Homo sapiens: one gene and its partners. The protein of the gene in region 7 purifies or fractionates together with the protein of the main gene of each other region. This does not show direct contact. Each region holds a gene or a part of one and is shown on either strand. Other genes may lie near its edges. The genes, in order: HACD2, TP53I11, SERINC1, TRAM1, ANO10, VEZT and SLC35E3.

Region 1 (3,946 bases), on a different chromosome or scaffold from region 7:
CCCCCACCACGAAACCGGTCCCTGTTGACCAAAAGGTTGGGGGCCGCTGCTCTATATAATCCCTGGGAGACTGACGACTTTGTCTCTTTCACTTAGTGCCATGAACTCCAGGGCAACTTTGTGGACGCTCCATAAACACTTGCTGGAATGAACCCATAAATATTTTATACTACCACATATACAGTAATACATTTAAGGAGCTGCTTGGGTGTGTAAAAAATTGCAGGGGACGTTTACAAATAAAGAACCTCCTGAAACAAAGCAATGAATGGAAAGTGGGATCAGCTGGTTGAAGCAATGCCCACAAGCTGCTCCAGCTTCCCAAAGCAGAGAGGTTTTCCACCTAAGCCAACATCCTTTTATTTTTAGTCACTATAGCTATAAATCTACTCCCTTACCCCGCACCTCACTCTCAGCCGACAGCCCAATGGGCTTATCCTCCTCTCGCCCTCACGATGAGCGAGTCCACGCGGTCTCAGGCTGGAAGATGCACTTGAACACCAGCCAAGCACTCACGGACGACACTGGATTCTAGGCCGCCTGGGCTTCTCCACTGTACTAGGAATGTAAAATCAAAAGTCAGAAAGAAAACTTCGGAGGTGGAATCTCCAACCCGGCAACGGGTTAGGAAGCAAAGCGCACCTACCAAAGGGCTGGTCCCTGCAGCCTCAAGGGCTGATGGGAAGTGAATCCACCGTCAACCGCCCTGATCCAAAATGGCAGGATACCGGAGCAATAGTGTTCAGGTGTGAAGATAGGGCAATTGAAGAAGGGAGAACGAAAGCATAATTGTTTTGATTCAACATGGAAGCAGTGATTATAGGAGGGCGAATAGCGAGGGACGACGCAACATCCAGCTGGCAGAAGCAGCGGGCCTGGAGAGGGTGGCTACATTGAACTAATCCAAGATGGCGCCGAGGTTGTAACCGGGAGCGCCCAAGAGGCGGGAATTACCCTGATCCAAGATGGCAGTGGCAACTGAGGCAAGCCGAAAGACGGGAGCGCCAGGAGCGTCTTTGCCCTCAGCCAAGATGGCGGCTGCCGTGGACCCTGTCCCGGCTCCGCCCCGCGGCCCTGGCCCCGCCTGCCCCTCGTCCCTTCCTCCGCCCCCTCTCCTCGCGTAGTCCGGCCCGAGCCGCTCGCGCTAGGAGAGCGGGCTTCGGGCACTTGACATGGCGGCAGTGGCGGCGACTGCAGCAGCGAAGGGGAATGGGGGCGGCGGTGGCAGGGCCGGGGCCGGGGACGCCAGCGGCACGCGGAAGAAGAAGGGCCCGGGGCCCCTGGCCACGGCGTACCTGGTCATCTACAATGTGGTGATGACAGCCGGGTGAGGCTGGGGCTCGGGGAGGCGGGGAGCCAGCGCGGCCGGGGAGGGAGCCCTGCGGCCAGCGGCGGGGCGGATAGGATCGGCGCGGCCCGCCGCAGGCAGTGCATTCCCGGCGGGGGGTGCCCGGGACCCGGTACCTGGGCGCTGAGGGCGGCCGAGCGCTGAATCGGCCCCGGTGGCTGCCCGCGAGCTCCCTCCTGCGCTGGGGGTCGAGCCAAGTTCCCAGGCACTGGGGCGCGGGGACGGCTGCCGGGCGCTGGCTCGCGAGGGCCGCGGGAGGAAAGGTGGGGCTGGCCACAGGTGCGGGGCCGGGGGCAGCGGCCGGACTACCTGCGGCGCGGAGCCCGTCCTGGGCGGCCAGATTCGGATGTTGAACGGCGCCAGCATGGGGAGTGGAGGAGCTGTGGCTGCAGAGTGACCATTCATTTGGGCGGCTGTTTTCAAAATCTGGGCTGCGCTTTAATCTGAAAGGTATTGGGAAAGCGTTCAAAGTTTTTGGCCAGCGACATGAGCAGAGCTAGGCTTTAGATGAGTTTAGACTTTTAGGATGGGTTGGGGTGGGGAAGAAACTGGGGAGTAGAAGGCAGAGTTACTGGAAAGGGGGAGAATGGACCCTCGAAACGGTTTTACCCATCTTCTGTCTCTTTCATTTCAGTGCATCCCTTATCCCGGCGGGTTTTTAGTTCAAGCTCTGCCACTAACTAGCTGTGTGACTTTGGATAAATCATCTTATTTCTCTAGCCTCCGTTTTTTCATTTGTAAAACTAAAGGGTTGGTCTGGGTGATGAAGGTTCCTTCAGCTCTGCAATTCTTTATCTTGTCATTTTGGTGAGGAGGATCACAGCATCAGACAGTTATATATTTTTAAGTTATCTTCATTTGTAATTTTTTAAGAAGTCCTAACATTTTATTATGAAAAATTTCAAACATACAGAAGAGTTGAAAGAATTGTATAGTGAACATCCATTTTTATTTAAAGTAGGTGATACATTGTTAGGGTTAAAAATGAAAAACATGAGGGAATACAGTGAAAATCTTTCCTCCCACCTTTCCCTTCTACCCAGCTCCCCTCCCTCGAGGCAGTTAATTTTGTGTATCCTTAAGATGCTGATGCAAGCAAATATGTTTATACATCCCCCTATCCCTTTTTAAAATAAGACAAATGCCAATATATTAATATTTTTACAGTTCAGCACCTTGCTTTTTTTTCACGAAGAAGAAAATATATCGTGGGAGGATCATATATGTATTGCTAGTATTAGAAATGGTAGGTGTTGGAACCTAGGCTCAGAGAAGTTGTGACTTGCATGAGATCATAGAACTTGTTAGTAGAAGTTCCAGATCTAGAAATCATTTCTCTTGACTCACAGGTCAATGAAGAACTAGTACAGATACAAGCTTTATATCACATCAGTGGTCACATAGATTGATTTTTAAAAAAACATCCAGGAATCTCACTGTGTGTATTAATATTTATATATAAAATTCTTGTTGTCTTAGCAAGAGCCGGTGAGGGCATTGGACTGGAGAGGGATTTTGAGGTACATTGGTAAGAAGAAAGAAGTCTATTCCTGAGCAATGAACATAGAGAATGGGGTGGAGGGTAAGGAGTGGTATCTTAAACCAGGAAGATAAATTGGGATTGTGAGAGCAAAGTAAGCTTTTTTTTTAAGGCTGTTAATGGTTGTACCAGTTACACCATTAAATAATTTCTTCTTTTACAAACTCTTACTTGATGTCCTTATGTGATAGTTTTTGGAAATAGCATAGACCACACACACCCCATTGCCTAGTTGATACTATACATTTATCTAAATCCTTCCAGGAGACATACCTTAATAAAAAGGTCCATTTGTTTTATTATGGAACTTAACAAAACATTGTGTTTATTTTTGAGAAGGACAGTGGAACAAAAATATAACATTCACAGCTGTATGCTTAAGTGCTTTCCTGTTTCGTGGTTTGTATTGATCTGGCTTTCATTTCTGCATTGATTTTAGGAAATTTGGCTAAAAAACTTTTTTTTTTTAGCAAGAGCCCTTTATTCGTAATTTTAAAAGGATAGATTTTAAGGTATGGGTAATTGTTCCAGTGAGACAATTATAACAATAGTTTAAAGCATCTTCTTTCCACCCTGTAATTATTAAAAACCCTTTAACTGCACAGGCTGTTTAAAATTTTCCTTTAACTGTTTTTTTCTCGTCTTAGATTTTCTTGGCACCTGATTTAGTGGCACAAGGACCATTTTAGCTTATTCCTTTCCTTTTGGCCTTGATCTCAATAGCAAAGTTGCCAAAAAAATGAGCTCCAGATGGGTGAGGTGCCACTATGCTTTCACTGAGCCCTCTTGGTAAGGTGCTGTCGGTGTTGCAACATTTCAGTGCATTACAGCTTGGCATTTGAGAGCTATCGTCCATAAATCCAGGTTACTCATGCTTGAGGTCACCTTTAGCAATATCTTTTATTGCCACAGCTGTGTGTTAACCTAAATGCTACTTTTTTTATTTTTATTTTTTCCTGATTGCTGTTTTCTCTTTTACTAGGTGGCTGGTTATAGCGGTTGGTCTGGTCCGAGCATACCTGGCTAAGGGTAGCTACCATAGCCTTTATTATTCAATT
Region 2 (4,220 bases), on a different chromosome or scaffold from region 7:
ACAGTGGGAGCCTGCATGGCACAGAGTCCATGCACAGTAAACATGAGCAGCTCCTATTAACTCTAAATCTCTACAGCAACCATAGCCGGTTCTTACTATTGGTTGCTCTAGGTGACTTACTTTGTCCAAGGCCACACAGGCACTAAAAGGCAGAGTCAGGATTTGAACCTAGGTGATCTGGTTCCAGAGCCTGCTCTATTAACCGTTAAGGAACTGGTGCAGACAGAACCGAGACCTGGAGTCAGAATGCCCACCTAGCTAGATGCCTGAGGCAGCCACTCACCTCTTTCTGTCTTATTTACTTGTGAAATGGAGCATGTCATCAGCCTTGCCTTCCTTTTCCCGCAGCCCCCCACCCCGGTTCCTGGCCCACTGTGACCATCAGATCAGATGAAAGAGATCCAGGCATTTCTCTAAGGAGAGCACAGGGTGGTGGGGGTTGGGGTGGGAGAGAGCACATTATTTTCCCACCATAAGGGGTTGAAGGAGCCCAGAATTTGGGGGTGGGGCCTTGTCTGTAGGAGCCTGGTTCTCTCAGGTTGACACGCCACCAGAGAGCCTCCATGACCCCCAACCCTCATCCTCACCCCAGCCCCCCATAGGATGTGTAGAGACAAAAGGTTTGACAACTGTAGCGCCAACAAGCGTCCTAGAGCCCCAGATAAGATCCTAGCCTCCTGACAGCGCAACTGACAGCAGCATCTCTGAGGCTGGATTTTAGGGTGGAGTATGAAGAAGGTGGCCGTAGTGACAGTGGGGTCATGTTATTTGGCCAAGTCACACCAAGCAGGGAGAGAGAAGGGTGGGCCTAGGCTGGAAGCCTGAAGGCTGAGTGAACTCAAACTTTAACGACCATGGCCTGTAAAATGGGACTAAGCACAGCGCCCTTATGGGTTGCTGTGAAAATCAAATGAGTTAATACTTGTAACTCCTTTAGCATATGGTGTCTGGCATCAGAGAGTGCGCAGCAAACGGTGACTATTGTCGTGACTGTGTTATTACACACTTGGGTATCACCGCCAGCCAAAGCAGTCCCTTCCATTTCAGGCACCGGCCTGGGCCCGGGAGACACCGCAAGGCTATTTAAGATGGTGTGGTTTGCCCATCTACGTTGATCGTCCCAAGAAAGGGGCACCGTCTGCAGAACTTGCCAGGAAAGTCATCCTGGGCGGCGCGGGCCACGCCAGGGTCTCCCCGCGCGGCTTCCTCCCCCGGCGCCTTCTCTCGGGCGCGCGTGCGCCCCCTGCAGGCGGCCCCCGGGAGAGCCTCGCGGGGGAGCCGGGAGCCTGGTTTCCCCGCCAACCCCCATCCCGCCCGCCCCGGCGGCCACCCTGGGGGCGAGGCAGCCCGGCGCGTGGGAGGGGACGGCGCGCCATTGGCTTGTGCGCGGAACCGAGAGGAGGGACCAGCGCGGGCCGCCAGACTCGGTAAGCCCCGGCCGCGCAGGGCGCCGCGCGCAGTCCAGCCGGCCCGGCCCTGCCCTGCCCTGCCCTGTCCTGCCCTGCCCTGCCCTGCCCTGCCCTGCACTGCCCGGCCCGGCACGGGCGGCGCGATGTGAGGCGTCCGAGCCCGGAGCCTCCGCCTGGCATCAGCTCCACGTAGCCCAGCGCCGGCACGCGCGAGGCCCGTAAGTTCTGCTCCCCGCCGCCGCTTCCGAGCCGCGGACTTTCCCCTCCCGCCGCCCGCCGCCTGCGCAGCGCAACCCAGCGGGGCTCCTGCGGCCGACGGGACCGCAGAGGGGCGGCCGGGACCCCGCGCGCGCTAACCGGGCGCCCCGGGACATCTCGGCACCCGCTGAGCCCGCTGGGACCCCAGGGGGTCGCCTCCCCAGCTCCCCAAGGCGCCGTCCCGCAGCCCCTTCCGTCTCCCCTGCGCGCTCTCCCCTCGCCGCCCCTCCCTCTGACTCGGTTTCCCCTCTCCCCCGGCTCCGCGGTCGCCCTCCTCCTGGACTGCTTATTTCGTCCTCGGCCACTGCCTCTCGGGCTCGAGCTTTCTGCTTCAGAGCAGGAGAGAAACGGAGCGAAAGCAGTTTCTGTCTCCCCGGGGTCTGACTCGGTCCCCCGCGCTCGGTTCTCTGTCCCCTCCCCCTCCCGCCATTGTTCCCGGCAGGAGGAGTGCGCGGCGCAAACTTGCGAGTTCCCCCAGTCTTTGCCCCCGCAGGGCCGCGGACGGAGGTGGTGGCGGAGTTCCCGCTGCCCACAAGTCTGGCCCGACCTTCTGGGGTGGGGGCCTGGGGGCAGGGGCCCTGGGCCGGAGAACCCGGGGCCGCCTAACGGCTCGGAGCTCACCGCCGGGGGACACCGGCGCTGAGGCCTGGGTCTCAGAAAGTGGGTGAGTGTCTGGAGCGGGGACATCAGGGACAGATTGCAGGGGGAGGGGCGAGGCTGAGAGAGTCCCCCGTCCCCAGGCTGGAAAGGGGCGGGCAGAAACCCAGGCCGCGCCTTAGCCCAGTTAGGGGGTGGGTAGGGGACGCACAGGTGGAGACGCCCCCCACTCTCCCCAAAGTCGCGCGATCTGCAGGAAGGGTACAGTGTGGGGCCACTGGCCGGGCGCTGGGTGGGTTAGGGCCCCTGCCGTGGGCAGAACACTCGCACCTACCCGGGGGAGGCTGTGTGGAGGAAGGGCCAGAACGCCGCGCCCACCCCGGCGCGCCCCGCTGGGCGGGGCGGGGCGGGGCGCTCGCCTTGGGTCCCCTCGCTCTACCTTCCTTCGCCCTGACCCAGTCTCGGGCTTCCGCCTCTTCCTGGAGCCCGGGGGGAGTGGGTTTCTCCGCCGGAGAGATGGAGGCTGGGGCAAGAGCAGCGCGGAGGCCAAGAACCCCCAGGCTCCTCCAAAGCCCAGAGCGGCTGGCCAAGGCCCCCTCACCGCCCCACTACCCTGCACTTCCTGATTGGTTTCTTTCAAACAAACTTCTTGACGGGGCGGGCCTGCGGGGAGAAGTCACCGGGGCTGCCCACCCCAACTATGTGGTCCCTTGGACCTCCACCCCTGACGGCCTGTGGAGAGGGGACCAGGATCTGCGGCCCGCAGATCCCAGGGACGCGGGGGTCGTTTTGTTGCAGAGCCAGGAGGGGGCACTGTCCGCTCCTTAGCCTCAGCCCCAGACTTCGAGAAAGGAGAGAAAAGATTTTTCTTGTTGGGTTGTTAGGAAATAAGACTATTCTCCAGGCTTCTGTTGTCCCATCTGTAAAATGGGTCGTCTTGTTCCTGAGGCCCCCTCTGTCCCCACCATCCCAGGAGGCCCCTGCCATGGCCGCTTCTTTCCCAGTCACATGTCGTCAACTTCCTCCGTGCTTCCAAATTTGGAGTGGAGGGCTAAGGCCGAAAGCCCCTTCACCCATGTCCAGCTGTCATGACCTGCCAGTTCTAGGACTGCGACCTATTTTCTGCACAGCTCTGCCTCCAGGCCCCTTGTGGCTTCTCCAGCTCACACCCAGCCTCCCAATTTCTTTTGATAGCCCCACCTCTGTGGGAAGAAGGGCCTGCCCCTCTTGGGGTATGGGGGAGGAGGGGGCTGGATTTAACAGGAATGCCCCATAGTCACACAGTTTGGGGCTGTTCTTTACTTTTGCTTATTGAACAAAATGTTTGTGAGCATTACACCAAAAATGGCTTATGGAGCAAAGTGCCAGGGACAGTTTCAGGCACTGGGGAGACAGCTGTGGACAAAATAAAAATTTTTGTCCTCATGGAGCTGATGCTTAAAAGCAGGGGGCAGGGGGAGGCAATTCCCTAATAAAAACAATAAGCAAATTATATAGTGTACTGAGAGGTGAAGGGGAAAAGTTGTGTTGGGGGTATTGAGGCCAGGGACCGGGTTGTCATTTTAAATAGGGTGTCAGGGAGGTCTCCCTGAGGAGGTAACTTTTGAGCTACAGCCTTGAGGGAGATGAGGGAGTGAGCTGTGTAGACAGCTAGAGCACAGCCCATGCAAAGGCCCTGAGGCTGGAATGTGCCTACCCTGCAGCTAGCAGGGAGTGAGGGGCTGAGGAAGAGTGAGTGACTGAGAAGGGATGAATTCCTCCCCTTTCACAGGTGAGGGAAGTGAGGCTCAGAGACAGTATGTCAGTCACCCCAGGACACACAGGCCAGGAGAGGCAGCTGCAGGGCGGGGTGCCTGATGTTCTGACTCCTGGTCCACGATACCTCCCCGGCACCCTGTGTCTCACTGTTTATCCTGCTACACTGGCTGGACCCCTCCCAGGGCCAGCGCAGCATCG
Region 3 (3,500 bases), on a different chromosome or scaffold from region 7:
CCTTAATTTGAAAGTACTTTATTTCCAAAAAATGCTAACAGTCATCTGAGCCTTCATCAAGTTGTAATCTTTTTGCTGGTAGGAGGTCTTGCCTCAATGTTGACGGCTGCTGACCGAACAGGGTGTTGGTTGCTGCAGGTTGGCATGGCTGTTTTAGTATCTTTAAACTAAGACCACAATGAAGTTTGCCCATTGATTGACTCCTCCTTTCACAAAATATTTCTCTGTAGCATATGATGCTGTTTGATAGCATTTGACCCAGAGTAGAATTTCCTTCCAAATTGGAGTCAATCCTCTTAAACCTGCTCCTGGTTCATTAAGTAAGTTTATGTAATATTCTAACTCCTTTGCTGTCATTTCAATAATATTCATAGCATCTTCATCAGGAGTAAATTCCATCTCAAAAAACTACTTTGTTCATCCATAAGAAGCAACACCTCATCATTCAGGCTTGATAATGAAATTGCAGCAATTCAGTCACATCTTCAGGTTCCACTTTTTAGTTCTCTTGCTCTTTCCACCGTATCTGTAGCTACTTCCTCCACTAAAGTCTTGAAATCCTCAGTCATCTATGAGGGTTAGAATCAACTTCTTTCAAACTCCTGTTAATGTTGATATTTTGACATTTTTTCCCATGAATCATGAATGTTCTTAATAGCATCTAGAATGGTGAATCTTTTCCAGAAGGTTTTCAGTTTACTTTGTCCACCCAGATCTATCAGAGGAATTACTCTATGGCAGCTATAGCCTTACAAAATATATTTCTTAAATAATAAGATTTAAACGTTGAAATTACTCCTTTTTCCATGGGCTGCAGAATAAATACTGTGTTAGCAGACATGAAAATATTAATCTCCCTGTACATCTCTATCAGAGCTTTTGGGTGACCCAGGTGCATCGTCATTGAGTAGTAATATTTTGAAAGGATCTTTTAGCAGTAAGTCCCAACAATGGGCTTAAAATATTCCGTAACCCATACTTTCAACAGATGTGCTGTCATCTAGGCTTTTTTCTATTCATAGAGAGGCTGAATAGACTTAATATAATTCTTAAGGGCCCTAGGATTTTTGGAATGGTAAAGAACATTGGCTTTCTCTTAAAATCATTGTCTGCATTAGTCCCTAACAAGAGAATCAGCCTGTCCTTTTAAGCTTTGAAGCCAGGCATTGACTGACTTCTCTATAGCTATGAAAGTCCTAGATTATATCTTCTTACAATAGAAGTCTATGTTGTCTTTATTGAAAATCTGTTGTTTGGTTTGGCTGCTTTCTTTTTTCTTATTTTTATTTTTTTGAGATGGAGTTTCACTCTTGTTGCACAGGCTGGAGTGCAATGGCACAATCCCCGTTCACTGCAACTTCTGTCTCCTTGGTAAGCCATTCTCCTGCCTCAGCCTCCTGAATAGCTGGGATTACAGGCCTGCGCCACCACACCCAGCTAATTTTGTATTTTTAGTAGAGATTGGGTTTCACCATGTTAGCCAGGCTGTTCTCGAACTCCTGACCTCAGGTGATCCACCCGCCTCAGCCTCCCAAAGTGCTGAACTTACAGGCGTGAGCAACCATGCCTGACCAGTGTAGCTACTTTCATTAATTTTGTTGGCTAGATTTTTAGGATGACTTGCTGTAGCTTCTGCATCAGCACTTACTGGTTCACCTTATACTTTTATGTTACGGAGACAGTTTCTTTCATTAAACCTCAACAACCAACCCCATCTAGTTTCAAACTTTTCTTCTACAGCTTCCTTCTCTCTCTCAATCTTAATAGACTTGAAGTGAGAGAGAGGGCCTTGCTCTGGATTAGGCTTTGGCTTAAGGGAATGCTCTGCTGGTTTGATCTTCTATCCAGGTCACTAAAACTTTCTCCTCCATATCAGCAATAAGACTGCTTTGCTTTCTTATCTATCATTTGTGTGTTTGTGTTCACTGGAGTGGCACTTTTAATATCCTTCAAGAACTTTTTCTTTTCTTTGCATTCGCAACTCAGCTAACTGGAACAGAAGGCCTAGCTTTTGACCTGTCTCAGCTTTTGGCATGCTTTCTTAACTAAGCTTAATCATTTCTAGCTTTTGATTTAAGTGAGAAAGGGGACTCTTTTACTTGAACAGTTAGAGGCCATTGCAGGGTTATTAACTGGCCTAATTTCCATATGGTTGTGTCTTGAAATAGGCCCAAGGAGAGGGATAGAGACAAGGAAATGGCTGGTTGGTGGAGCAGTCAGAACACACACAATGTTTGTCGATTATTTCACCATCTTATATGGGTGTGATTTGTGGTGCCCGAAAGAAATTACAATAGTAACATAATAGGTCACTGATGAGAGATCACCATAACAGATGTAATTAATAATAATGACAAATTGTGAAATATTACAAGAATTACCAAAATGTGAAACAAAGTGAGTACATACTGTTAGAAAAAATGGAACCAATAGACTTGTTTAATGCAGGGTTGCCACAAACCTTCAATTTGTAAAAAGAACAGTATCTGTAAAATGCTAAAAAAAAAAAAAAAAAAAAATAGGCAAAGCACAGTAAAACAAGGTATGTCTATGTAAGAAACTGGGTGAAATTATAAGAAAGGTATCTGATTTGCATAGAGCATATAATTGTCGTATATAGAAAGAAAAACTCTTCAAATTCCTGTTGATTCAATTGTGAACAGTATAATTTTTTCACATTATTAAATTACTCTTTTAGCCTGTGACTACCTTACAATTGAATTTGATAATTGGGCTTTGTAATGCATCTTATTATAGGCTAGTTATATTGCATACCATGAGAATAGAAACATATGTTGAAAGGAGACAAATTAGAATAGACAAAAATTATTACCTATTAAAAAGAAGAAAATGATCTCTTTTCCTAAAAAATTTATCTGATGTTATATGAATCTCATTGAGTTTACAAACTGTAGGTATTTTATCATAGGTACTTTATAACTTGGAGACCAATTTATTTTTTGTTTTTTTGTTTTGATGTATTACACAAAGATTTCCTGTTTTTTTCCAGGTAGGTGGTTAGAAAAAAATTATTAGTAGTTTGCTTTAGAGAAGGAAATAGCCTTACCTAATTGGCTTTAAGGTAAGAATCATTTTCATTAGTAAGATGGAGTTTGACAGATCTGGCTTTGCAGGAGAAAAATATGTATTTTAGACACTTTAGTGAATATTTTAGCAATCCTACTTTTTTTTTTTTTTTTTGAGACAGAGTCTCGCTCTGTCGTTAGGCTGGAATGCAGTGGCATGATCTCGGCTCACTGCAACCGCCTCCCGGGTTCGAGTCTTTCTGCCTCAGCCTCCCGAGTAGCTGGGACTACAGGCACATGCCACCACGCCCAGCTGATTTTTGTATTTTTAGTAGAGAAGCGGTTTCACCATGTTGGCCAGGATGATCTCTATCTCTTGACCTTGTGATCCGCCCGCCTCGGCCTCCCAAAGTGCTGGGATTACAGGCATGAGCCACCGCACCTTGCCTACTTTCTTCTTTATAAAAGAATAAG
Region 4 (2,349 bases), on a different chromosome or scaffold from region 7:
GGGTGGGCCCAGAAAACACTGTAAGTTCTCACTCCAGTCCATGGAACTGGTGGCCTGGCCCCCAGGTTTCAGGCTGTCCCTGGCTTGAAGAGGGGGGCTTCACCAGGGCCCACCCCTTTCTGCCCAGGAACCTGTCTGCCTCCTGCTGCCATCAACCTGCCATCCGTGGTGCCTAGGCTGGTCATGCCAAGGGGTGCCTACAGACCCACACCAAGCTGCCCTCAGCCCCCCTCGGCCTCCCTCTCGTGCTCATCAGCACCCAAAGTCCTGACAGGGCCAAGGGAGCAGGGAGCTGCCTTGGGAACTTTGGACCTGCTGAATGGCGGGACTAAAAGGGCTATAGCACAAACAAGGCTGAAATATGTCCCCCTGCTCGCCACGTTGTGGATGACAAGAAAGAGAGAAAAGCCCCCAGATCTAGGGGCTCCCTGAGCAGGCATATCAGTGCTGCTCTAATCCCAGGGTCAGTCTCACCTTCACTCCAAAACTAGCAGACGCCAGGAGCAGCAGAGTGGCCAGGCAGTGGGAGCAGGCACTTCCAAGCCTGCAGAGGTAGTAGGGCTTCCTGAACACCGAAGAACTACAGCTGGGTGGCTGCCACTGTGCCCAGGAGTGCGGGACTCCCACCACTCCAACTTTGAAAGGGATGGGGCTCCTGCTAGCTATGTGGAGCACACAGCCCTGGATGCACCTCTCACACTACAGCCAATGTCATGGCAGTAGCCACTCCACAGGGGCTGCCGCTGCCATCACTGAGAAGTGGAGGTTGCAGTGAGTGGAGATCATGTCACTGGACTCCAGCCGGGATAACAGAGTGAGACCCTGTCTCAGAAGAAAAAAAAGATAATACTATTGTTCACATTTTCTGTTTCTTAGTCGTTTCTCTTTTGGTAAATAATGTTTTTCAAGGAATTTGTCTAGTTCATATAAATTTGCAAATACATCGGCATAAAATTATTCATATGACTTTCGTTATCCTGTTAACACCTCTAAATCAGGAGTGATTCCTGTTTTTCATTTCATGTTGTTAGTAACGTAAGCCTTTTATCTTTCCTTCCATCAGTCAAAACCAACATTTGTCTTTTTGTGTTGATTTTCCTAGTTGTCTCTTTTCTGGATCATTGATTTCTATTCTTTCCTTTTCATTGGGTTTAATTTGCGGTTTTGTTTGTGATTTACCTTCTTGAGATGGATCTTTGGAGCATTGATTTGTATCTCTTGTGAATTACATTCAGTTAATGGTAAACTTTTCCTTTCAACACTGCTTTAACTGTATTTCACAAGGATTTTTTGTTTTGTTTTGGGGTTTTTTTTTGTGTGGTTTTTTTTTTTTTTTCTTTTTTTTTTAGATGGAGTCTAGCTCTGTTGCCCACGCTGGAGTGCAGTGGCGCGATCTCAGCTCACTGCAACCTTTGCCTCCCGGGCTCAAGTGATTCTCCTGCCTCCCAGGTAGTCAGGATTACAGGCACCCACCACCACAACCAGCTAATTTTTGTATTTTTAGTAGAGATGGCATTTCACCACGTTGGCCAGGCTGGTCTTGAACTCCTGGCCTCAGGTGATCCACCCACCTCAGCCTCCCAAAGTGCTGGGATTACAGGCGTGAGCCACCATGCTTAGTCTGTATTTCACAGGTTTCAATATGTCTTTTTCATTATTATTCAGTTCAATGATATCTGTGCTGGGATTCCACTTGTGCTGTGATTATAGGTGCAAGCCATTGCCCCCGCCTCAAACATCCATTTCTGTATGCAACTTTTGTATTTTTGGAGAGAGAGTCAGTCACACATACGCTACTCCATCATAGCTTGAAGAAGGCCATTACTATTAGCCAGGTGTGGTGGCACATGCCTGTAGTCCCAGCTATTTGGGAGGCTGAGGTCCCCGGGAGCATCACTGGTCCCCGGGAGTTCAAGACTGCATTGAGCCATGATCGTGCCACTACACAGCCTTGGTGACAGAGTGAGACCCTGTCTCAAAAAACAACAGTAACATAAATAAATAAAAAGAAGGCCATAATACACGCCTCCACATAGAAATTATCCTAAACACCAACTTTACTATATTGTAAACAAATATCCCCAAGGACTTCGCTGTCAAATGTGAAAAGTTTCTTTATTTCTACAGAAGGTATTTCTCTTGAATACTATTTTTAAATTCTTGTGACTTTATAGTTTTCTGTGCTGTCACTTTTTTCTGCTTTTAATAGTAGTTTTCTTTTAATTTGCTACTTTCAGTTCATTGTGTTAAAAATGTTACCAGGTTTTGTGATTGGTTAAATACTGGTAAGTAAATTTCACCTGAGTGAATTGGATTTTACATTTTCTTTTCTGAAGGTATCTTTACATA
Region 5 (4,245 bases), on a different chromosome or scaffold from region 7:
GATACATTCCAAGATCCACAGTGGATGCTTGAAACTGAGGATAGTATAAAACTCTATGTATACTATGTTTTTTCCTACACATACATACATACTATGATAAAGTTTCATTTATAAATTAGGTACAGTAAGGGATTAACAACAATGAATAATAATAAAATAGAACAATTATAAAAATAGACTGTAATAAAAGGTGAATATGGTCTCTCTCTCTCTCTCCAAATATCTTATTGTTCTGGCCTCACCTATTTTCAGACTGTGGTAGACCCTGGGTAACTAAAAACACTTAAAGCCGGCAGGGCGCGGTGGCTCACGCCTGTAATCCCAGCACTTTGGGAAACCGAGGCAGGCGGATCACCTGAGGTCAGGAGTTCTAGACCAGCCTGGCCAACATAGTGAAACCCTGTCTCTACAAAAAATACAAAAATTAGCTGGGCATGATGGTGCGCGCCTGTAATCCCAGCTACTCAGGAGGCTGAGGCAGGAGAATCGCTTGAACCCGGGAGGCGGAGGTTGCAGTGAGCCGAGACTGCGCCACTGCACTCCAGCCTGGGTGACATTGCGAGGCTCTATCTCAAAACAACAACAACAAAAAGTCAAAAAGTGTGGTGGACAGAAGAAATAGGAGAGCAGGTAAGGAAATGGTGGGGTGAGGAGCAGATGAGAACAGGTATTAAGTAGGATGGTCAGAAAGGGCCTCAGGGAGAAAGTGAGAGCCCAGCAAACACTGAGGGAGGTGAGGAAGTGAGCCAAGCAGCCAACCGAGGGAAGAGCTTTCTGGGCAGAAGGAATGGCTGGGGCAGACTCTGAGCCTGGAGGTGGAAAGGTGTCTGGCGATTTCTAGGAGGAGCAAGGGTTTTGGGATTTGGCTGTGGTTGGATGTTAGGTTTTAATTATAAAAGGATCTGCGTTTTTCACAACTTGAAAGTGAGCTACAGTTAAAATGAGACTTGTTCTTATACCTGAAAGTGACCAGAAAATTAGGTTCTGGTCTTTAAGAGATGGAAGAGGGAAATGTGAAGGGGCGTATTCCTTTCCCCTGCCCCGACCGCTCGCGGTTGGAGAGCCCAGCCACATGCCGCCCCGGCTCGGAGTGACAGCCCAACCAGGCCTCTGCCTTCTCGGCCGCGCCTCTCCCGCTGCCGTCCGGATTTCGATGGGTGGTACAGTACGTTAGGCACGCCCCTCCCTTTCTCCCGGCCTGGTCTCCTGTTCCAGGCGACAGCCCAATGAGGGCTGCCTTTTTTTCTTCGGACCGGTTCCAGTCTAGGTTCTCGTCCACTACGATCGCCCAGTGAGGCCCCGCCCCTCCCACCGCAGTTCCGCCCCTCCCGGAGCTACCGCCCAGTGAGGCCCCGCCTCTCCCGCCGCGGCCCCGCCCCCCTGCGTGTGACCGCATCTAGGCCCCGCCGCGTCCGCCACGCCCAGCGCTCGGCGGCGCCCGCCCCACTGGCCTGGCCCGCCCCCCGCACCGAGCACTCTTTCGCCCGGCCTCCGGTTCTCGCCGGCTCTCGGACCCGCCTCCGAAGACGTGGAGCGCTGCGGCGGCTGGTGAGTCGGGGAGGGCACCTCGGACCCCCCAGCTGTCCGCAGCAGAGCCCGGCCCCTTGCAGCCACAGAGCCCCGGCCGCTGCAGGCTCCAGGAGCTCCGCCTGGTCGCCGCCCTGCGTTCCCGGGCCGCCTCCCGGTGCCAGCACCCCTGGGGATGGGAAGTGGGACCAGGATGGGCGCGGGGGCTGTGGGGGCAGGGACGAGTGAAGGTGTTGCGGGGAGCGGCGGTCGCAGGGGAGGGGAGAGGTTTGTGGAGGGGATTATGGGTCTGGGGCGAGGGTTTGAGTCCTGAGAGAAAGGCGGTGAGGCGGAAATTTGGGGCTGGTGAAGTCAGGATGGAGGATGTTGGGGGCCTCAGCGCTTTGGGGAAGGAGGCAGTGAGTGGGGTGGTCGGCGGAGCGGAGTGAAGGGTGGTTTTTAGAAGGGTCAGCTCGCGGGTCCCGGGGTTCTTGCTTCCCGGGCAGTCCGGGGATCAGGGCGGACTAGGCTGTCTCCAAGCAGGTTTGGCCGGAGCGGGCTTGCAGGATAATGCTCACATCGAGGTGACTGAGTTTCCAGGCTTTTGACTGGGACATACTGTACAGTTTAAATAATAGATACCTGTCTGGCTAGTGCCTGGGACACCTGAGAAACGTGGATGGAATGGGGTTCTCCCCTATAGGCAGCGTCTGATTTTGTGGGTGCCTTCACAGCACCAGCATTGGTGTGCGCTGCCTTCTGTAAAACCTTATATTCCAGCAGGACGGTGTATGGAGATCCCAGACTTAAAAAGTGCAGCTGAGGTTTATTCAGACTCAAGACACAGTTGTATCATATTGCCTTAAATCCTGCGGAGTTTAAATCTAATCCTGTGGGGTTTAAAGCGGTTAAATCCACTTTGTAGTGTCTACTTTTAATTTAAAGTCATACAAATCTAGAGGACTAGATGTTTTCTAAGGGCCCATTCTGCATGATAAACAGTTTAAAATTCGCTATGGAAAGTAAATCATCTGTTCTGAACAGCTGTTGCTGAAAGAATCGTAGAGTTGCAGATGAATGAAATTTGAAAGATCTAAAATAATGGAAGGGCATAGAAAAGTCTTGATAAATTGAAGTGTGTAAATGCACTTAAACCCACTGAAACTTTTTTCTTTTTGTTTTTTTTGAGACGGAGTCTTGCTCTGTCGCTCAGGCTGGAGTGCAGTGGCACAATGTCTGCTCACTGCAACCTCCGCCTCTCGGGTTCAAGCGATTCTCCCGAGTAGCTGGGATTATAGGCGCCTGCCACCATGCCCGGCTAATTTTTGTGTTTTTAGTAGAGATGGGGTTCCACCATGTTGGCCAGGCTGGTCTTGAACTCCTGACCTCAGGTAATCCTCCCACCTCGGCCTCCCAAAGTGCTGGGATTACAGACGTGAGCCACTGTGCTGGCCAACTTTTTTCATTGTAGACAACTTGGAAGACAGAGAAAATTATAAGGATGAAAATTAAAATCTGTAGTTTTGCCACATGTAATAACATTTTGATGCATTTCTTCCTAATTTTTGTATTTTTGTGTATATGAATGTACACAAAATTAGGGTAGTATTGTTACCTAATTGGGGTAATATTGTTATATTACTTCATACTTTTGCTTTTTCTTTCCACCTTACATTTTCTCACTTAGCATTTTTGTGGATCAAATTCTTCTTAAACATCTTTGAAAATGCTTGTATAATCATTCATCATGTGGATTCATTCTTTTTTTAAATATTAGAGTTTTAGTTATGTGCCTAGTACTGTGCTTGGAGGTGAAAAATCAGTGTTCCTCAAATGGATATATTTGTCATGGCTTGCATGAGAGCTGTACTAAGCCTTTTTCTCATCTGTCAGTTAAATTGTCTCTAGCCTTCTGTTTTTATAAGCAGTAAACCTTTGTTTTAATGGTTAAAAGCTCACAATAAATCTCATGTCATGTGTGAATCCAAAACTGTTATTTTTAATGTGTATGAGTTTTTGTGTGTATGTGTTAGGAAATTACGGAATTTTGGGTGGAAGAGGATTTTTTTTTTTTTTTTTTTTGGACAAGGTCTCACTCTGTTGCCCAAACTGCAGTGCGTGCAGTGGTGCAGTCACAGCTCACTGCAGCCTTGACCTCTGGGGTCAGGTGATCCTCCCATCTCAGCCTCCTGGGTAGCTGGGACTACAGGCGAGAGCTTCACCGTATCCAGCTAATTTTTTTTTTCTTTTTTTTTGTATTTATTGTAGAGACAGGGTTTCGCCATGTTGCCCAGGCTGGTCTTGAACTCCTGAGCTCAATAGATCCACCCCCCATGGACTCCCAAAGTGCTGGGATTACAAGCCTCAGCTACTGTGCCCAGCCCCTGGAAGAGGCTCTTTTTAAAAAGTTTCTTGTTTTGAAATAATTTTAGATTTACAAAAAGTTGCAAAAATAGTACAAATTTCCTTATGCCCTTCACCTAGCTTCCCCAGATGTGAACATCTTAGATGACGATGGTGCAATTGTTGAAACCAGAAAATTGACATTGATACAATTCTATTAGTGTAATCTACAGACCTTATTCAAATTTCACTAATTGTCCCACTAATATTTAGGATCCAGTCTGAGATCCTACACTGTATTTAGTCGTCATATGTCCTTAGCCTCTTTTAACCTGAGCATCCTCCTAAACAGGATGACCTGGTGCAGACCTGTAAAGTGAAGCAGGCCTGCTAGAA
Region 6 (3,500 bases), about 26 Mb from region 7:
TAAAGCCACAACTTTTTTTTTTTTTTTGACAGGGTCTTGCACTGTTGCCTAGGCTGGAATGCAGTGTTAACCATCATAACTCACTGCAGCCTCCAACTCCTGGCTCAGGTGATCCTACCACTTCAGCCTCTCAAGTAGCTGGGACTACAGGCAGGTGCCACCATGTCCAGCTAACCTGTAACTCTTATCACGGGATTCTTCTTGGGAAAGGCTAGGAGCAGCCATCTTATTTCCTGTGTTTGGGCTTTACCACCTATGAGACCTGTAACCCCCTCTACCCCTATTACCACTTTCATTCAACTTAGATCTCAGGCCACTGACTGAGAAAGGCCTTCTTTTGAAGAGCTGAAAGCTTGTAAGGCATGTTTTCTTGCCATCTACCACTTGATTACTCAGCCAGTGGAACATATTTCAGGTTCTGCTGAGTCAGCCCTACTTCTAGATACTAAGTACTGTGTCACCCATACATCCTAATGCACAGTGACTGGTTTTTGGCACCAGGGACTTGTTTCGTGGAAGACAGTTTTTCCAGATGGAGGATGGTTTCAGGATGAAACTGTTCCACCTGAGATCATCAGGCATTAGTTAGATTCTCATAAGGAGCTCACAACCTAGATCTCTCACATGCACATTTCACAATAGGGTTCCTGCTCCTATGAGAATCTAATGCTGCCACTGATCTGACAGGAGGCGGAGCTCTGATAGTAACGCTTGCTCACCCACTGGCCCACCATCCTGCTGGCCTCGGGCTGTATTCCTAACAGGCCATGGACCGGTACCAGTGCTGTGCAGGCCTGGGGGTTGAGGACCCCTGTTAATGCAGTAAACAGGAACCTGTCTATGTGCCATAAGCAGAAAGGAATTTAACATAGGGAATTAATGGTTAGATTATCATCGGAAGGCCTACAGGATCAAGCTCTATCAAAGTTGCTATATGCTCATGAAGACAAGAGCACGTGATCATGATCATAGTTACAATCCAGGAATTAGAAGCCATCACCACTTTGGGAGTCCGAGGCGGGCGGATCACCAGGTCAGGAGATTGAGACCTTCCTGGCTAATGCTGTGAAACCCCATCTCTAGTAAAAATACAAAAAGAAATTAGCCGGGCTTGGTGGCGGGCGCCTGTAGTCCCAGCTACTCGGGAGGCTGAGGCAGGAGAATGGCGTAAACCCAGGAGGCTGAGCTTGCAGTGAGCCAAGATCGCGCCACTGCACTCCAGCGTGGGCGATAGAGCAAGACTCTGTCTCAAACAAAACAAAACAAAACAAAACAAAACAAAAGCCATCACCACATCTGCCTCTCAATAACCTAACAAAGTGATACCTTGGTATTGGAACTTGGAGTCTCTCCACTGTCTCTACCACACCTGCAGCTGTGTTATCAAGAAGCTGGAGAATCCATATTGGAATACTGCTATAGAAACATTTTGCCTCCACAGCTTTGTTTCATAGCAAAAAAAAAAAAAAAAAAAAAAAAAAAAAAAAGAGAGAGAAGGATGGAGGGAAGAGAAGGAATGAGAGAACAGACAAATGAAAGAACAAGGCCAGCAGTGGGGGGATCACTTGAGGCCAGCAGTTTGAGACCAGCTTGGGCAATATAGAGAGACCTTGTTTCTACAAAAAATTATTTTAAAGAATTAGCTGGGCATGGTGGCATGCATCTCTAGCCCTAGCTACTCAGGAGGCTGACGCAGGAGGATTGCTTAAACCCAGGAGTTCAAGGCTGTGATGAGCTTTGATGAGGCCACTGCACTCTGCCTTGGTGACAGATTGAGACTTTGCCTTTATTTAAAAAAAAAAAAAAAAAAGAACAGTTGAAACAAAAGCCAAAGAAGCAAAAAGTGGACTTCTGCTCTTCTTCCACCTTCCAAATCTCTTACACCATACACCTACTTGGGGAAACCCTGATTTATATCTAGAATCCTAGCTGCAAGATAATTTGGGAAATTTCAGATGTAGCTTTCCTGCCTCTGTAACACAAGAGATACATTGGAAGAAGGATTATAGAATAGAGATTGAACAAGCCAAGCCAATTTACCATATCTATCTTAGGGCTGAACCTCTCTTCCCCTAAGAAAATTTAACTGTGATTTTTTTTTTTTTGGTATATTTGTTGTAATACTGTTATTTTAATGATCTTCAGATAGAAATCAGAGTCATTCATGTATTGAGACTTACCTAGAGAATTACATGCTGCATGAAAGTTAAAAACTTAAATCATGCAGAGTTTTGGATAATATTCCAACAACATCCCTTCCCTTAAAACAAACTCTTTGAGGTATCTTGTTTTAATTTCTGTTTCTTGGATTATTTGTAAATTTTACTGTACTATATTTTGGGTCATTTGTATTTCTCCTTCCAGTGATCACTTTGAGTCCTCTTAGTCTGAGAGGACTAGATGTGCACTGAAAGATGATAATATAAGAGAAGGACTAAGGGAGGAAAGAAAGAGTGAAGTGCCCAGGCCCAATTCCCATTTCTTGCCCTAGAATCTGATTACCCATTTTATCAGAGCTAGATTCCGTATGTACTTTCAATGTTAATTCCATTATATTGGAGCCTGACTCCTCCTCCTATAAGATCATTTGTTTTAATTAGAATCTTCTACCATCATTCTACTCTAAGAGGCTGAATTGAGAAGGACAGTATAACCTCAGTCTTGGACCTCTCAGGCTAAACAGCAACAGAACAAAGTTTAGAAAATGATGGATACTATGTCTAATGTGAATATTAACAAAATAAGCATGAAATACCAAGATTGTTGTTTTACTCTGTTATCGTCATCATTAATTACAGTGTTTTGAGAGTAAGAATTCTCCAATTACTTTAGAAAGGTATTAAAGTTCTGATGTTGCTTTCTTAACTGTTTTTTAGACAGGGTCTCACTCTGTCACCAGGCTGGCCTCCAATAGAACAATCACTGTTCACTGCAGCCTCCACTTCCCAGGCTCAGGTGATTATCTCATCTCAGCCTCCCAAGTAGCTGGGACTACAGGCATGTGCCATCATGCCCTACTAATTTTTTCTTTTTTTTTTTTTTTTTTGAGATGGAATTTTGTTTTGCTCTTGTCGCCCAGGCTGGAGTGCAATGGCGTGATCTCGGGTCACTGCAACCTCCACCTCCCGGGTTCAAGCGATTCTCCTGCCTCAGCCTCCCAAGTAGCTGGGATTACAGGTGCATGCCACCACACCCTGCTAATTTTTGTATTTTTAGTAGAGATGGGGTTTCGCCATGTTGGCCAGGCTTGTCTCGAACTCCTGACCTCAGGTGATCCATCCGCCTCGGCTTCCCAAAGTGCTGGGATTATAGGCATGAGCCACCATGCCCGGCCAATTTTTTGTATTTTTTGCAGAGAGTGGGTTTTGACATGTTGCCCAGGTTCAAGTGATTGTTCTGCCTCGGCCTCCCAAAGTGCTGGGATTACAGACATGAACGACTGCACCGGGCCTTAAATTTTAATTGCAGAAACTTCAGGTCATCTGTCTTAAACCTTGCTA
Region 7 (3,500 bases):
TGCTATAGATTAGAATCAAAGGATTCTATATCCCTAAGGTAGATATTTGACATGAGATTGACCAAGGAATGATTGTAGATTAATGGACAGTTTCTTATCAGTAAGTGGTAAAGGTACCATTACAAAATAGGTATATTCCCAAAACATTCCTCTTAAAGAAAGTTGTATCTGCCCACAGTATCTTGGGATAATTTCTATGTTGTTTCTCTTATACTGCTGGAGACATTAAAAGGAGTTAAAAGACAAGTGACCAGCTATTAGCTTGAGTTGTAGAAAGATGGTTGACTCATTCATTCGTTCAGCAGACATCTTTTCTGCATTATGTTCACCCTTGAGGATACAAAGATGAAAAGCAGCTACAGTCCAGCAGTGTAGAAACACAAAGAGACAGCTGGTCACAGTAGCATATGTACCCCAAGGTAGGAGGAAAATTCTGAGGAACACCAAGGAGGAAGTGGCAGCTCTTAAAGAGGGGCGGTGAGGTAAGACTTTACGGAAAAGTTAACAATTTAAATTGAAGGGCACACAGAAATGAGCTCAGCAGGGAAGGACAGCTGGTCTTTTCCTTGCAGTGTGTGTGAAAGTCTGGAGCATTTTTGGAGAACTTGATTTGTTTGGTGAGGCTAGGCAGTAGGTGCATTGTGAGAAGACAAGGCTGAGGAGTGGGTGATACCAGATGTCAGGGTCGTGAAGCCATGCTAAGGAAGTATATCTTTATTGAGCACGCACCAGGAGAGGAGTTCAGACAGGGACTGACTTGATCATTCCCCTGTCTTTAGAAAAGTAACTGATGGCAATGAAGGGTGGGTAAGAGGGAAGGAAGGGTAAAAGGCAGAGCAGTCAGGAACCTACCTGTACTTCACAGGACAGGCAGGAAGGGCCTGGGCTAGGGCGGTGGGAATGGACAGGGAAAGGTTAAAAGGCACTCCAGGGGCGTTTTGGGGAACATAGGAGAACCTGACTGAATGTGAGAGAGAGGAAAGTAAGGCTCTGATCCCTGAGGGAGATTATATCATCAATTATTGGAAACACACAAGAGGAGCCCATTTGTAGAAAAAAGGCACCAGTTGATTTTAAACAAGTTCCTGCAGATTATATAAGTAGAGATGGCCAGGAGACTGGCCAATATAAGGTTAAGGATGCTCAAGCGATGAGGGAAGAGCAGTAGATCTCAGCAAATAGTAAAAGACATCAGTCAGGGCGATGAAAGAGGAAGGCAGGCATCTGCCTTAAAAACTGTTAAGTGCAGGAGGCAGTGAGGGAGGAGTACAAACCAGAGGGTAGTTCTTCCAAGCAAAACTTGCAGGTTCTGCAAAGAGGGCTCGCAGGAAGGGCCACAGGGAGTCTGGACATGTCCATGGAGATCATAGTGCCCTTAGGAGAGCATTAGAGGGGTGGTGGCAGGAGCCAGGCTGTGCTGCATTGAGGGACAGTGGAGGCCTGAGAGCCCCTGCTGTTCCAGGCAGTCCTGTGGCGAAGACACGCGGCTGCCTGAAGAGGCTGCAAAAGGAAAGGCAGGTGAGCACACACCCTCTGTATCCGTTTTTGCTTGCTGCTGTGCCCCAAGGAGCAGGCAGCAGAAGAATCAGTTCTTTGTCCTTCATATTCACAGAGGACTCTTAGTTAAAGCTGGCAGGAGTATGGTTCAAATTCCCTGCTCTTCTATTTTTGTCTTGATGGATTTCTATAGACTTAGAGTTTATGTAACAAGATACCCAGACCTACAGGAACAAGAAGTATGTAGAAGTCATTCAAAAGCCTAGCTGTTCTTGCCAGATCTGATCCAAACAGTCCTGTTAAATCTTCTTCAAAGCCTTTTTTTCAGTTATATTTGTGAAGTATTTTGTGGACGAATGGGATTTGAGGTCTTGAGATGTTGTTTCTACTGAATGGTATGGTATTTTAGGGTTAGTGATTATCCAGTGTATCTAGGTGTATTGGTGGGGGATGAGGAATAGTATCCACAGAAAAGTCATCCAGAGAGAGGAAAATCTCTTCTACCATTGATTGGGTTTTCCAAAGCAACTGACGAGACCACATACCTTTTCAAGCCACACACATTGGCAACCATCTCTAACCTGCCCCCATGCCCCATTGTCATCGTGTCCCCCCAACCTCTGTCTTTGTTTTTTTTTTTTTTTAGACAGAGTCTCACTCTATCACTGAGGCTGGAGTGCAGTGGCGCGATCTCAGCTCACTGCAACCTCCGCCTCCTTGGTTCAAGCGATTCTCCTGCTCAGCGTCCCGAGTAGCTGGGACCACAGGCGCCCGCCACCACGCCCAGCTAATTGTATTTTTAGTAGAGATAGGGTTTCACCATGTTGGCCAGGCTGGTCTCGGACTCCTGACCTCAGGTTATCTGCCTGCCTTGGCCTCCCAAAGTACTGGGATTACAGGTGTCAGCCACTGCTCCTGGCCCCGGTCTTCCATTTTTTAAATTTTGCCATTTTTAGAAAGAAATGAAGTCCAACACTGCATCTGTATTCCTAATCACCTGAATTTCTATTTCTCCCTTATTTTCCCAAGATCTTTTATCCTTGTAGGCCCTTATATGCATTTATTTTTCCCTATTTACTAGGATCAGGTAGAAGGAAATAGAGGACTTTTCTCCTCCTTCTAAGAATTGAGAAGAAGCTAGATTATCAGAAATTAAATTTATAGAGCTATTTTCATCCATGGTGCTTAAAGGGCATTCATATAGCTTACTGGTCTTTGAAATCTTGTAGAATAATTAGACATTTTATCTTCCCCTAGTCTATACCCCACATTCCCATCTTTGTGACTCTAGTTGTCGCATCTTTGATTATGTGATACTATTTCTTTTGTGCCAGACATGTTTTATCTCCTAATTTTCAGTGGGTAGGAGCCAAACAGCATGAATTACAAGTGAACTCAATGCAGCTGCTGTACTACCAGGCTCCGATGTCATCTGCCATGTTGCTGGTTGCTGTGCCCTTCTTTGAGCCAGTGTTTGGAGAAGGAGGAATATTTGGTCCCTGGTCAGTTTCTGCTTTGGTAAGTTCTAATTGTTTTGATATCTAAGAAACAGTATAATAATAACTCCTCCATTATTAATGTAATTTTTAGTTTTCAGAGCACTATGTCCGATCCATTCTCACATTTATCGTCATAATCACCATAAAAGGAGGTAAGGTAAGGATTCTTTTTCAGATGAAGAAATTGAGGTACACAAAGGTGAAGGGACTTGCCTAGAGTGAGGCAGCTACTCAGTGGCAAAAGCAGAACTACAATTAATGTCTTCCGATGCCTGGTTACTGTTCTGACCATGTCAAGCTAGAGCCCACAAATAATTTGGACATTTAGATTAAGTTAAATTTTTTTACAATGAAAACATAGCTTTATAATCACTATTTCGATTTTGAACATACGTAAAAATATAAAGAAAGTGAAGGGGCCAGGCACAGTGGCTCACTCCTGTAATCCCAGCACTTTGGGAGGATGAGCTGGGCAGATCGTTTGAGCCCAGGAGTTTTAGACCA

What was found.
Region 1: the proteins of SLC35E3 (region 7) and HACD2 purify together in Homo sapiens (affinity purification with mass spectrometry; one large-scale study listed by BioGRID and IntAct). This does not show direct contact.
Region 2: the proteins of SLC35E3 (region 7) and TP53I11 purify together in Homo sapiens (affinity purification with mass spectrometry; one large-scale study listed by BioGRID and IntAct). This does not show direct contact.
Region 3: the proteins of SLC35E3 (region 7) and SERINC1 purify together in Homo sapiens (affinity purification with mass spectrometry; one large-scale study listed by BioGRID and IntAct). This does not show direct contact.
Region 4: the proteins of SLC35E3 (region 7) and TRAM1 purify together in Homo sapiens (affinity purification with mass spectrometry; one large-scale study listed by BioGRID and IntAct). This does not show direct contact.
Region 5: the proteins of SLC35E3 (region 7) and ANO10 purify together in Homo sapiens (affinity purification with mass spectrometry; one large-scale study listed by BioGRID and IntAct). This does not show direct contact.
Region 6: the proteins of SLC35E3 (region 7) and VEZT purify together in Homo sapiens (affinity purification with mass spectrometry; one large-scale study listed by BioGRID and IntAct). This does not show direct contact.

The regions. Positions count from the first base shown.
Region 1 is NC_000003.12:123,582,254-123,586,199, reverse strand, and holds the start of HACD2 (very-long-chain (3R)-3-hydroxyacyl-CoA dehydratase 2), read left to right. Parts: upstream 1-1,146; 5' UTR 1,147-1,172; coding exon 1,173-1,327; intron 1,328-1,582; exon of another isoform or gene 1,583-1,798; intron 1,799-3,870; coding exon 3,871-3,946. UniProt on the Homo sapiens protein: Catalyzes the third of the very long-chain fatty acids (VLCFA) elongation four-step cycle (condensation, reduction, dehydration, and reduction).
Region 2 is NC_000011.10:44,948,084-44,952,303, reverse strand, and holds the start of TP53I11 (tumor protein p53-inducible protein 11), read left to right. Parts: upstream 1-1,420; 5' UTR 1,421-1,627; intron 1,628-2,143; exon of another isoform or gene 2,144-2,331; intron 2,332-4,220.
Region 3 is NC_000006.12:122,447,808-122,451,307, reverse strand, and holds part of SERINC1 (serine incorporator 1), read left to right. Parts: intron 1-3,500.
Region 4 is NC_000008.11:70,575,068-70,577,416, reverse strand, and holds part of TRAM1 (translocating chain-associated membrane protein 1), read left to right. Parts: intron 1-2,349. UniProt on the Homo sapiens protein: Involved in the translocation of nascent protein chains into or through the endoplasmic reticulum (ER) membrane by facilitating the proper chain positioning at the SEC61 channel.
Region 5 is NC_000003.12:43,619,212-43,623,456, reverse strand, and holds the start of ANO10 (anoctamin-10), read left to right. Parts: upstream 1-1,445; 5' UTR 1,446-1,548; exon of another isoform or gene 1,549-1,684; intron 1,685-4,245. UniProt on the Homo sapiens protein: Does not exhibit calcium-activated chloride channel (CaCC) activity. Can inhibit the activity of ANO1.
Region 6 is NC_000012.12:95,224,307-95,227,806, forward strand, and holds part of VEZT (vezatin), read left to right. Parts: intron 1-3,500. UniProt on the Homo sapiens protein: Plays a pivotal role in the establishment of adherens junctions and their maintenance in adult life.
Region 7 is NC_000012.12:68,749,176-68,752,675, forward strand, and holds part of SLC35E3 (solute carrier family 35 member E3), read left to right. Parts: intron 1-2,856; coding exon 2,857-3,015; intron 3,016-3,500. UniProt on the Homo sapiens protein: Putative transporter.